Homo sapiens: one gene and its partners. The protein of the gene in region 1 purifies or fractionates together with the protein of each later gene. This does not show direct contact. Each region holds a gene or a part of one and is shown on either strand. Other genes may lie near its edges. The genes, in order: ASB14, POTEF and PGAM5.

The links.
Region 2: the proteins of ASB14 (region 1) and POTEF purify together in Homo sapiens (affinity purification with mass spectrometry; 2 studies listed by BioGRID and IntAct, with this or other methods). This does not show direct contact.
Region 3: the proteins of ASB14 (region 1) and PGAM5 purify together in Homo sapiens (affinity purification with mass spectrometry, with the first as the bait; one large-scale study listed by BioGRID). This does not show direct contact.

What each region holds. Positions count from the first base shown.
Region 1 is NC_000003.12:57,279,090-57,282,736, forward strand, and holds part of ASB14 (ankyrin repeat and SOCS box protein 14), read right to left. Parts: intron 1,385-3,647; coding exon 1,213-1,384; intron 1-1,212. UniProt on the Homo sapiens protein: May be a substrate-recognition component of a SCF-like ECS (Elongin-Cullin-SOCS-box protein) E3 ubiquitin-protein ligase complex which mediates the ubiquitination and subsequent proteasomal degradation of target proteins.
Region 2 is NC_000002.12:130,127,021-130,130,767, forward strand, and holds the start of POTEF (POTE ankyrin domain family member F), read right to left. Parts: upstream 2,203-3,747; 5' UTR 2,052-2,202; intron 845-2,051; 5' UTR 689-844; intron 1-688.
Region 3 is NC_000012.12:132,717,233-132,720,879, reverse strand, and holds part of PGAM5 (serine/threonine-protein phosphatase PGAM5, mitochondrial), read right to left. Parts: intron 3,442-3,647; coding exon 3,316-3,441; intron 3,171-3,315; coding exon 3,082-3,170; intron 2,894-3,081; coding exon 2,760-2,893; intron 2,119-2,759; coding exon of another isoform or gene 2,070-2,118; exon of another isoform or gene 1,713-2,069; intron 203-1,712; coding exon 52-202; 3' UTR 1-51. UniProt on the Homo sapiens protein: Mitochondrial serine/threonine phosphatase that dephosphorylates various substrates and thus plays a role in different biological processes including cellular senescence or mitophagy. Modulates cellular senescence by regulating mitochondrial dynamics.

The DNA of each region.
Region 1 (3,647 bases):
TAAAATTGAATGGAATTACCGTCTAAGCTATAAAATTCAGAATTAGCTCAGAGGCCTGAGGCTTCCCATATTGTCTAAGTACCTGAGAAAAAAGTTTTATATCTCTTCGGTGGCTTCAGAGGATGCCTGGTTAAACAGCCATTTCTAGTTCTTCCTAGTTGGTCAAGAGTTTTTCTTTTTTTTTTTTTTTTTTTTTTTTTTTTGAGACGGAGTTTCCTCTTGTTGCCCAAGCTGGAGTGCAGTGGCGCAATCTTGGCTCACTGCAACCTCTGCCTCCTGGGTTCAAGCAATTCTCCTAAGAGTTTCTCATCTTTAAAAGGTATGTTTAGGGCTGGGGGTGGTGGCTCAAGCCTGTAATCCCAGCACTTTGGGAGGCCGAGGAGGGCGGATCACGAGGTTAAGAGATTGAGACCATCCTGGCCAACATGGTGAAACCCCATCTCTACTAAAAATACAAAAATTAGCTGGTGTGGTGGTGCCCACCTGTAGTCCCAGCTACTCAGGAGGCTGAGGCAGGAGAATTGCTTGAACCCGGGAGGCGGAGGTTGCGGTCAGCCGAGATCATGCCACTGCACTCCAGCCTGGCTGCAGGAGTTCAGTCAGCGTGGTGGGAAATATTATTAAAATTATAGAAAGAAGCACACCTTCTTGGAAGGCCGGGAGGTTTTGCAAAAGCTTCAGGAAAGGATTTGGCTGAAGGCAGCTGAATTCTCTCAGAGTAGGTTACAAGGAAGTGTAAGGGAATTGATCTAGATAAGTTAGTTTACTTAGGCCTCAGAACTGGCCTTTAATCATCCACATGTAGGACTGTTCTGGCAGCGGGGGTTGGGGGGGAACCGTGTTAATTACTCACACGATGTGCTGACTCAAAGCCTTTGTCATTAAACCTGTACTAAATAAATGCCTGAAGCACCAGCTTGTCAGGGCCATGGCTGCTACAACTCTTTCTTTGAGCAGCCTGGTCCCCTAGCCCACTCTTTCACTGGATACCTATGTCTAAGTACTTTCATCTGTCACTTGGCCAGGGTCTATGGTTCAGACCCAGCACCTGGCGACAGAGGGAGACAGCATCTCAAAAAAAAAAAAAAAAAAAAAAAGTATGTTTAGATTGTGGGATCAGTGATTAAAGATTATAAAGTTCCTAGAAGCAGCACAAAATAAAAGGTAGCTATTACTGTTTTTATTATTTATAATAATGTAATTGAACTTAACAGTAAGTGGCCCCTGTCAGCTGCCACATGGATGGGCAGGTGGCCTGAATTCTTAGGGATGTTGGCATCAGCTCCATACTCCAGCAAGAGAGCCACAGCATCTGGATTTCCTCCACTTGCGGCTTCAAGTAAGATGGAAGAAGAATCAGAGGCCTGACCATGAGCATTAGCTCCTAAGAGGAGAAAGACTCTTGTTAATGCAAAAATTATTTTCCACTGTATTTCTTGAGCAATCTTAAAAATATATCCCCATCACCAAAAAGCAATTAGTGAGCACGCACTCTAGCAAAGCACCAAGAATCAAAGTAACAGAATATATACCTCCTGCTCTCAAGTAACTTATAAACTAGTTGGGGAAGAAAAAAATGGCAGTTTCTAAATTATAAGTAGGTTAGTTTTTGAAGTAATTTGATGTCCATTTGTTTGGAACTTGAAAATTCCAGTAGAAATACTGTTATAAAAGTTGCTTTTATTTCTAGACCAGCCTATAAAAGCCCACTTAACTCATAACACACATATAGGATGGTACTAACAAATCTATCAAACTATAATACCATGCCATCTAATGATACTGTTTTGGTGGAAAAGGGCATTTGTTCTGTTTTAGCTTGTTCGTAGGGGACCATAGTAGGAGACACTGTAACTGTTTTTAATTGAGGTTAGGAACTGCCAATAGCCAAAGAGGTAAGTTGTTGTAGTTATTAGTACAGAGTATCCCTTATCCAAAATGCTTGGGACCAGAAGTGTTTCATATTTCAGGGTTTTTAAAAAAAATATTTGCACTACACTTACAAGTTGCATTATACTTACAAGTCCCAAATCCAGAAATCCGAAATCTGAAATGCTCCAGTAGGAATTTCTTTTGAGCATCATGTTGATGTTCAAAAAGTTTCAGATTTTGGAAGATTCTGGATTTCAGATTTTCAGATTAAGAATGCTTAACTTACACCCTGTATGTTAAGTGTTATGTGAGTGATGTGAATAATAAGAGTACAGGGACAGGCAAAAGGTCTTCTAGAAGATCTAGGGCTGGGGTTGTAAGGGGGGCTGGGGTTGTAAGGGGAGCTGGGAGGTGAAGGAAGGAGAAAAGAGTTTGGGTCAGTTGTGGAAGTGTTCCCAGTAAAATGGGCTCTGAAGAAAGAGTAGCATTTGAATGGACAAAAGTTACGGAGAGCATTCTGAAGCTCATATAAAAAAGATGTAGTGACTTTAATTTAACACAGACTCCATAAGAGTCATCAGGGTCCAGTGGCTGCCCAAGAACCCCATTCCAAGAATGCCTTAGAAGTCCAATAAGCCTCTGCTTATTGAGTGCCCACTATGTGCTGGTTCCATTATGTGTATAATAATTTTTAAACTTTGTAACAACCCCCAGCAGTAGGTGCTTAACATACTCATTTTAAAGATGAAGAAACTCATTGAGTTTCAGTGACTTCCCCAAAGATGCACACCTAGTAAGCAAGGTAGTCAGGATTCATATACAGTTATTCTAGACCCAGGGCTTATATCTATGATGCCATGTTGCCACTCTAGCAATGCAGGGTGATAATGTGATTTGGAATCAGATGAACCTTGAAATACTGGCTCTGTGATGTACCATCTGTGTCACTTGGTGCAAATTACTTTGTAAGGAGTCACTTAAAGGAAATGCTTACTCACTGAGGTCAACTGATACTGGTTTCTTTGCAGGGTAAAGGATTTAACATCTGTTGCTTCTTTCTCTGTATTTTAATCAATGATCTATACAAAAGGTTACTCTTTCCTCGTAGATGAAAGATTCCAATGTTTATTTTTGTTATTCCAGCTAATGACTTTAGACATTTCTTATATTGATCATTTAAAACATCTTACTTAAAATGTCTTATGGCCATTGATTAGCAACTAGCCTCCCCTATATGACAGGAAAGATTTAGATAATGTCTAAAAAGCACAAGGTTGTTTTTAAATATGAGTCTCTGCCATCTAGAATACTGGAGACCAGGACTGTGTATTGTTAAAGAACAAAATAATACTTCTAGACAGGGAGGAGAATAAAGATAATTCTATTATTGAGACTTTTAAAAATCTTGGTAAAAATTTGCTTTTTTGAAAAAAAGCTTTAGATTGATCCTACCTTGCTTCATCTAACAGTGTCATCAATGAGCTCTCCTCGAAGACAGTAAAGGCCAAAGTTCTCTGAGCCAAGGGTCCCTGCTAGTTAAGCCAGGATTCAAAATGCCCACAGCTACAGAGCTGGGGATAGGGGAGGGGGCATGTTTGAAGGGAAGTCCTGCAGCTGGTACCATGGCTGACCCTCACTTTCCTCAAGTATAAAATTAGGATAATACCTACCTCACAGAGTTTTTAAAGGGTTATGAGGCAACATGGGTAGTTTAATGCTTTTGCTTAGATAGTACCCAATAAGTTTAAGTTGCTTTCCCCTTCCCTTGGAGTTTT
Region 2 (3,747 bases), on another chromosome or scaffold:
CAAAAAAGAAGGAAAAAATGGCCGGGAGTGGTGGCTCACGCCTATAATCCTAGCACTTTGGGAGGCCAAGGTGGGTGGATCATGAGGTCAGGTGATCTAGACCATCCTGGCTAACACTGTGAAACCCCATCTCTACTAAAAATACAAAAATAAAATTGGCTGGGCGTGGTGGCAGGCGCCTGTAGTCCCAGCTACTAGGGAGGCTGAGGCAGGAGGATGGTGTGAACCCAGGAAGCAGAGCTTGCAGTGAGCCGAGATCACACCACGGCACTCCAGCCTGGGCAAAAGAGCGAGACTCTGTCTCAAAAAAAAAAAAAAAAAAAAAAAAAAAGCCACACACACACACACACAGTCACCCCCTAAATTTTGTTAAGAATGAGACAATGCTGCCACTCATGCCTGGCTCAGAAGGAGGCCACCCTCCAGAGATTGCAAGAGAAGGGGGAGGACTCCTTTCCCTAAGTGCACCTCCACCACTGCCACCGAGGCCCATGGTACAGCACCAGCAGGTTCGTCCCCACCCCAGGTCGGACTGGGCCCTGCAGTGCTCCTACTCCCCCTTCCCAGTCCCCAGACTTTCTGCCACTACCACCACTAGCACCAATGCCAATACAATTGCTGTCGCCATCAATGCAGCAGCCCACCCTACAAGGTTCCTACCACCTTGCCCCCGCGGGCACCCTCCTACCACTCCTGTCGAGCTGCAGTCTCCGTGGCTGCCATCAGTCACACGAGGCGAGCTGCAGAGTCACGCCACATGCAGGCTCCAGCGTACCACAGGTGATTCCTTCTCCTCCTCCTCCAGCCTGGCTTGGAGCAGCTAGACGGGCAAAGCCAGAAAAGCCTAGAATGGGATGCAGGGAGTGGTAACGTTAGAGCCTCACCTTGTCATGCTGGCCACTGGGTGGCAGGGACCAGCTTCAGCTAAGGCACTCAGACCCACCCACCGAAGTCCAGCCTCTCTTTCTGGCAAAAGGTGGCCAGGAACTGGGGCGGGTGTGAGTGCCTATGCTGAAACCACCCCCATCCAGGTGCAACTGGCCAGAAATTGCTGGGCCCACCAGGGCTGCACTCCTTGGGGAGCAGGAGTAGGAGAAACTCAGACCCAGCCAGCCCTCCCCACTCAACTGCTGGTTCCCATTCCTGACACCTCCACCCACAGTGCCCTGTTCCCACAGTCCCCCGCGATGCCCACTAATCCCCACCCGGTAGTCCCAGGTGGTCTCCCCAACACAGAGCATGGGGTGTGGGCGGGAGGTGCAGGCCGGAGAACCGCAGTGGGTGTGGGGGCCCTGCCCTGCTCAAGATTGCACCAGGAGGAACTCTGGAGTCTGGAAAAGAGAAGAGTCACCCGAAGGAGCAAGGAGACCATGGCTGTTGCTGTCCCCACCACCTCTGCAGCCGACCAACACCACTGGCAGTATAGCCCCCATAGCAACCCTAACCTGACCCCTGCCGCCGGCAGTGTAGCCCCCGGACAGCACACCCACCACACCCTGTGCCAGTTGCAGGCAGTGTAACCCCAATACCCCCCCCAACCACCCCCTCCACAGGCAGTGTAGCACCCGATAGTGCCCACAACCTGACCCAGCCACAGGTGTTGCTGCACAAGACAATGCCTCAAAATCGCCGCCCCCACCCCACCACAGGTAGCGCAGCTCCTGATAGCGCACCCTGAGTAAGGGCAGTGCAGCACCCGACAACACTCCTAAACCACCCCCCGCTGCCAGCATTGTAGCTCCAAATAACCACCAAAACCACTCCCTGCCCCGGGCAGTGCAGCAGAAAATAGTGCCCCTAACCCCTCCCCCGCCACCGGCAGTACACGTTAGTGCACACAACCTGCCTCCCCCCCATCACCCCCGCCACCACGGGCAGTGTAGCCCCGGACAGCCAGCCAAAACCGCCCCCCTCCACCGCCAGCAATGCAACCTCGGAGAGTGCCCCCAACCAGCCCCCTGACACAGGCAGTGCAGCCTCGGGTAGTGAGCCCCAATAGGACACCCAACCCCTGCCCCCACAGGCGGGCAGTACATCCCCGGATAACTCACCTACACCAGGACATTTCTACCACTCTGGCCGAGCTGCAGTGTCCCACGTCACCACCAAACACAGCAAGGCGAGCCCCAGGGGCTCAGGCTCCAGCCTCCAGCATGCCGCTCCCTTCTACTCGTCTTCCTGCCTGGCAGGAGAAGCTCCCGCTACTGGTTGCCCTCCTACCACTGTCGACACCACCAACTGCAGTGAGCCAGTGTCCGAGGCTCCAGCCAGAAACAGGTAGCAGCCATGCCGGATACCAAACGCCCACACTTAAGAGCCTGAAATGACCTGACGCCACCTCCGCATGCTTTACCTACTGAGGTTACGCACATGTGGTTCCCAGACTACATGTTCTGATTGGATGAGAGAAAAACCTCTAGGCCTACTCTGATTGGACTTTATTTTCATGCTGTGATTGGTTGTCTTAAGACTGGCTCTCATCCAATCAGAACATGATAATAAAGTCCAATCCAAGTAACCCTGGAGGGTTTTTCTCATCCAATCAGAACATGCAGTCAGGAATCCTCCTGTATATAATCTCGGTATATGACTGCTGCTGAAGGGAAGTCAGGCTCTTCCACGTTCCCGTATTTTCCTGTGGAGCTGCTCAGTGCCCGGCTTAGAGGACCAGGAATGGGTAATCACCAGCCGTACGCTGGAGGCTGGAGCCGCTACACCGTGGCTCGCCTCGCTGCGACTGGTGGTAACCGCGACCGAGACGGCAGTGCGGCGGAAGCGGTAAGAGGAGGAAAAGAGTTTTGGGATAGATGGAGGGGGTAAAGAGGGTGGTTAGTGCCAAAGGGAAAAGAGGATAGTGAGCAGGAGAGCGCGTTGCAAAAAGGCGGTGGGGAAAAGATAGTGGGAAAAAAAGTTTTTGGGTAGATGGAGGGAGAAAAACGGGGTGGGGAGCGGGAGGGAGGGAAGGTTTTGCAGAAAGATGGTGGGTAAAATGTTTATGGGTAGATGGAGGAGGAAAAGAGGGTGGCAAGGGAGGAGGAAAGAGAGGGTGGTGGGGGGGAGAAACAGCGTTGAGCAGTAGGGAGAGAAGGTTTTGTGAAAAGACAGTGGGGAGAAAAGGTTTTGGGTAGATAGAGGGGGAAAAGAGGGTAACAGGTGGGGGAAGGGAAAAGGGTAGCCAGCGGGAGGAAGACAAGGTTTTGCAAAAAGATAGTGGGCAGGAAAGAAAGACGGTGGAGAAAGAAAAGACAGTGGGTAAAAAGTGTTTGGGTAGATGGTGGGGGGAAAGAGGGTAACGAGGAGGAGGAAAGAGGGTGACGAGAGGGAGCAGGGAAAGAGAGTTGGGAAAAAAATGGGAAAATAGTTTGGGGTAGATGGAAGGCAAAAAAGAGAGTGGCAAGCAGGATAGGGCAAAGAAGAGGACGAGTGGGAAGGGGGGAAGACTGTGAAAAGACAGTAGGGAATATTCTGGGGGGTGGATGGAGGGGGAAAAGGGGAGGTGAGCAGGAGTGGGGAGAAGGCTTTGCGAAAAGACTATGGTGAAATGTTTTTGGGTAGAGAAGGGAAAGAGGGTGGCAAGGAGGAGCGGGGGAAAAGACGATGAGGAAAACAGTTTTCGGGTAGATGAAGGGCGAAAAAGTGGTGAGCAGCAGGAGTGAGGAGAAGGGTTTGGGAAAAGACGGGAGAAAATGTTTTTGCTTAGATGAAGGAGCAAAAGAGGGTGATGAGAGTGGGATGGGGGAAAAGAAG
Region 3 (3,647 bases), on another chromosome or scaffold:
AGTGTGTGCGGCCTGTGCAGGGAGGACAGAGGGAAGGAGAGGCCGGAGCCCTCAGGATCGAGTGATCTTGTCGGGAGGCATGAACCCCGTGTCCCCGAGGGTCCTGAGCGCAACTCGGCCGTTGGGTCGGATCACCAGGTGGGTGATGCTGCCATTATTGAGGGAGAGCCGGAGCCAGCCTTCAGGAGGAAACTGCAGTGCTCTGGGGAGAGAGAGAGAGAGAGAAAGAGCACGTTAGAGCCAGGGGGCTCTGTCCTTAAAACGGGCTGAGCTAGGCCGGGCATGGTGGCTCACACCTGTAATCCCAGCACTTTGGGAGGCCAGGCGGGTGGATCACAAGGTCAGGAGATCGAGACCATCCCAGCTAACACGGTGAAACCCCATCTCTACTAAAAATACAAAAAATTAGCTGGGCGTGATAGCAGGCACCTGTAGTCCCAGCTACTTGGGAGGCTGAGGCAGAAGAATGGCGTGAACCCGGGAGGCGGAGCTTGCAGTGAGCTGAGATCGCGCCACTGCACTCCAGCCTGGGTGACAGAGCGAGATTCTGTCTAAAAAAAAAAAAACGGGCTGGGCTAGAGCCAGGGGACTCTGTCCTTAAAAGAGGCTGGGCCAGGCTGTGCCAGGGGGCTCTGTTCTACAAACAGAGGCTGAGCCCCTCAGAAGTCTCAGAGCAGCCTCAGGGCCGGGGTACACATCAGCCGAGCCGCTCCTGTCTTCAGTCGGGGCTTCTCGGGGAAGATCTGGCTGGGATCGACGTGAATCGATGACTGGGATCGACATGAATGGAGCCATCACACTTGGGGACCTGCCCTCTTTAGGACAGGGGCCCAACCCCAACTCAAGATTTGCACAGATCAGAACAACGCTGACTTCTTACGAGGAAACACAGTTTAATTTCTGCTTTTCCCATATAAAAGCAGGGAGCAGCCAGTTAGTGCAACAGGTCCCTTTCTGGGAAAGCAAAGAACGGAGATGGGATCTACCCGCCGTGGCATCTTCATGCACTTCTTAGGCACAATTCGCATTTGCGGAAAAGCTCGGAGTTGCCTTCATCGCCTCTGAGCCACCCACCGCCCTGTCTCAGTGGGCCGCATGGCCACCCTCACGCTGCTTCCCGAGCCTCCTCAGGGCTGCCTGGCGGCACCGGCCGGAACAGCACAGCCATATTCTCGTGTCCAGGTGCACGTGCCTGGCCCTCACCACTGTGTGGACTCAGGTCGGCTCCACTCTCCCGCCCCGGTTATTTCTGTGCATTTTTAGCATTTGTGTCACCTCGGGGTGACTGTGTCATGGACACACAAGGTGGTGGTGGCAGCATAGAAGCCACCCATATGGCTCATTCACAAGCACAGACAGGAGGCAACGAACGACTCACAGCAAACAGGTACTCACTTAGCCTGAGGCCACACCACCCGGAGGCTCCAACCCCCAGAAAAGCTCTATCTGGTCTGGAGCCAAGCTTGAGAATCTCGGCCCGTACATCCTCGACTTTCTGGGAGCTGCTGCTCTTGACCATGGTGCTCCCAGCAGCCCCAGCCCTGGTGACAGGCCCAGGTGACAGACGGGCAGAGACCAGGGCCCAGCCTCACACGGCATCACTGACCAGTGCCGTCCTGTCCTCCCACCACAGGACTCGTCACACTCAAGAGGGCCCCCTCAGCTGCGGAGCCCACACACACATTTCCTAATGGATCCAGAGAAGAGGCAAATTTGTTTCAAATTTGCATTTAGTGAGATTTGGCCAACCCTTCTGACTGTTTCAGGCATGTAACCGTAGAGCTGGCCCTGCCCCCCAAGGGGCCCTCTAACGTGGCTGCAGCCCTGGAGCTCCTTAAAGAAGTGGCTGATTGCAGGGTGGTGGCAGGGAAAACGCAACCTGAACCCGGATCATTCTGTGGTGCTGAGAGTGGGGCACCAGAGCAGGTTGAGGGACAAGGGCCCCCCGAGGGAGCAGCCCGAGCAGCAACGTGACTCAGCTGTGGCCTCGACCCAGAGGGGAGCGGACACCCCGAGCCGTCACGCTGGCACACGGGTGGGAGCGCCCACAGATCAGCAAGTGAAAGAGGTCAGGACCCCAGAAGCACAAAATCCCCAGCGGACAACAGCGGCGGGATGCTGCCAGTGGGATCCAGCCGGAGGCAGAAGGTGGTTGGTCGAGTTTGAGGGGAAACAGGACGTTCAATTACAAAGGGAAAACAACCAGGGCAGTGCGGACGCCCAGCATGCACCGTACCCAGGACCCCCCACCCAGCACGCACCCCACCCAGGACACCCCCACCCAGCACGCACCCCACCCAGGACCCCCCACCCAGCACGCACCCCACCCAGGACACCCCCACCCAGCACGCACCCCACCCAGGACACCCCCACCCAGCACGCACCCCACCCAGGACACCCCCACCCAGCACGCACCCCACCCAGGACCCCCCACCCAGCACACACCCCACCCAGGACACCCCCACCCAGCACGCACCCCACTCAGGACCCCCCACCCAGCACGCACCCCACCCAGGACACCACAGGGGTCCCTCCCTGTCTGCACCACCCTTGCCCAAAACAGCCTTATGAGAAGCTCCAAGTAACACGCCACCTACCGCGTAACTGACTAGGACTCGCGGGAAGTGGACGCCCGGGGGCTGGTGAGGCCTGACTAGGGTGGCATCGGCAGTGGAGGAGGGTCTCGCTCGGCTTCTTCCTCATGCTTTTCTCTAAGTCTGAAATTATTTTAGACCACGCCCAGCCCAGCAGCTGCCTACCTGCACACGATGTAGCGGATGACGTTGGCGTGACAGATGAAGATCTCGTAACTGTCCTCCTCCTGCCTGGCATCTGCGCGGTGGATGTAGTTCCGGAAGGCGGCCTCGATCCGGGCTCCGTCTTCGTAATACTGCTGGGGGCAGAGTGAGGAGCCGTCAGTGCGGAAGTGCTCGGGCAGGGCGGGTGTCAGGAGGACAGACCCCATCGCCGCCCGGGGAAGCCCGTGGGACGGCCGGGCACGTGGTGGATGGTGAGCCCAGCAGGGCCGCTTTGCCCAGGGAAGGCGAGGGTGACACAGCTGCCCCCCGGGGAGGTTTTTACCACAGCTTCCGGCTTCCAATGAGACACGGGCGGGTCTGGCTCGATGGGGGCGCCTTCCCGCAGCAGATCTGTGCTGACTTTGCAGACGCCTGCAGAGAAGCACAGCGAAGCGCTGGGTGAGGCGGCCCCGCCGGCGGAGATGCTGTGACCTCCCGGTGGCCAGGAGCTCAGGCCGGGGCCCTGCCACGAGCCGCCCACTGCTGCAAGCATGGAGGCCCCGCGCGCAGCACTCACCTGGCAGGTGCCGGCTGATGATATCGGTGGTCTCTATGGCGCGCGTCATAGACGAATGGACGATTTTATTAAACTTCAACCCCAAGCTTGCCAGGCGGAGCCCAGTGAGTTCAGCCTGCTCCCGACCTGGAAGGTGAAAGGCACCTGAGTGCCGCACCTGCACCCCCTCCTCCACCCTCAAACACCCCCTCCTCCGCCCGCAAACACGCCCTCCTCCACCCTCAAACACCCCCTCCTCCGCCCGCAAACACCCCCTCCTCCGCCCGCAAACACGACCCCTGATCAGGCAGCAAGCTCAGCAAGCTCAGCCGATGGCTCCTGCCCGCCCGAGG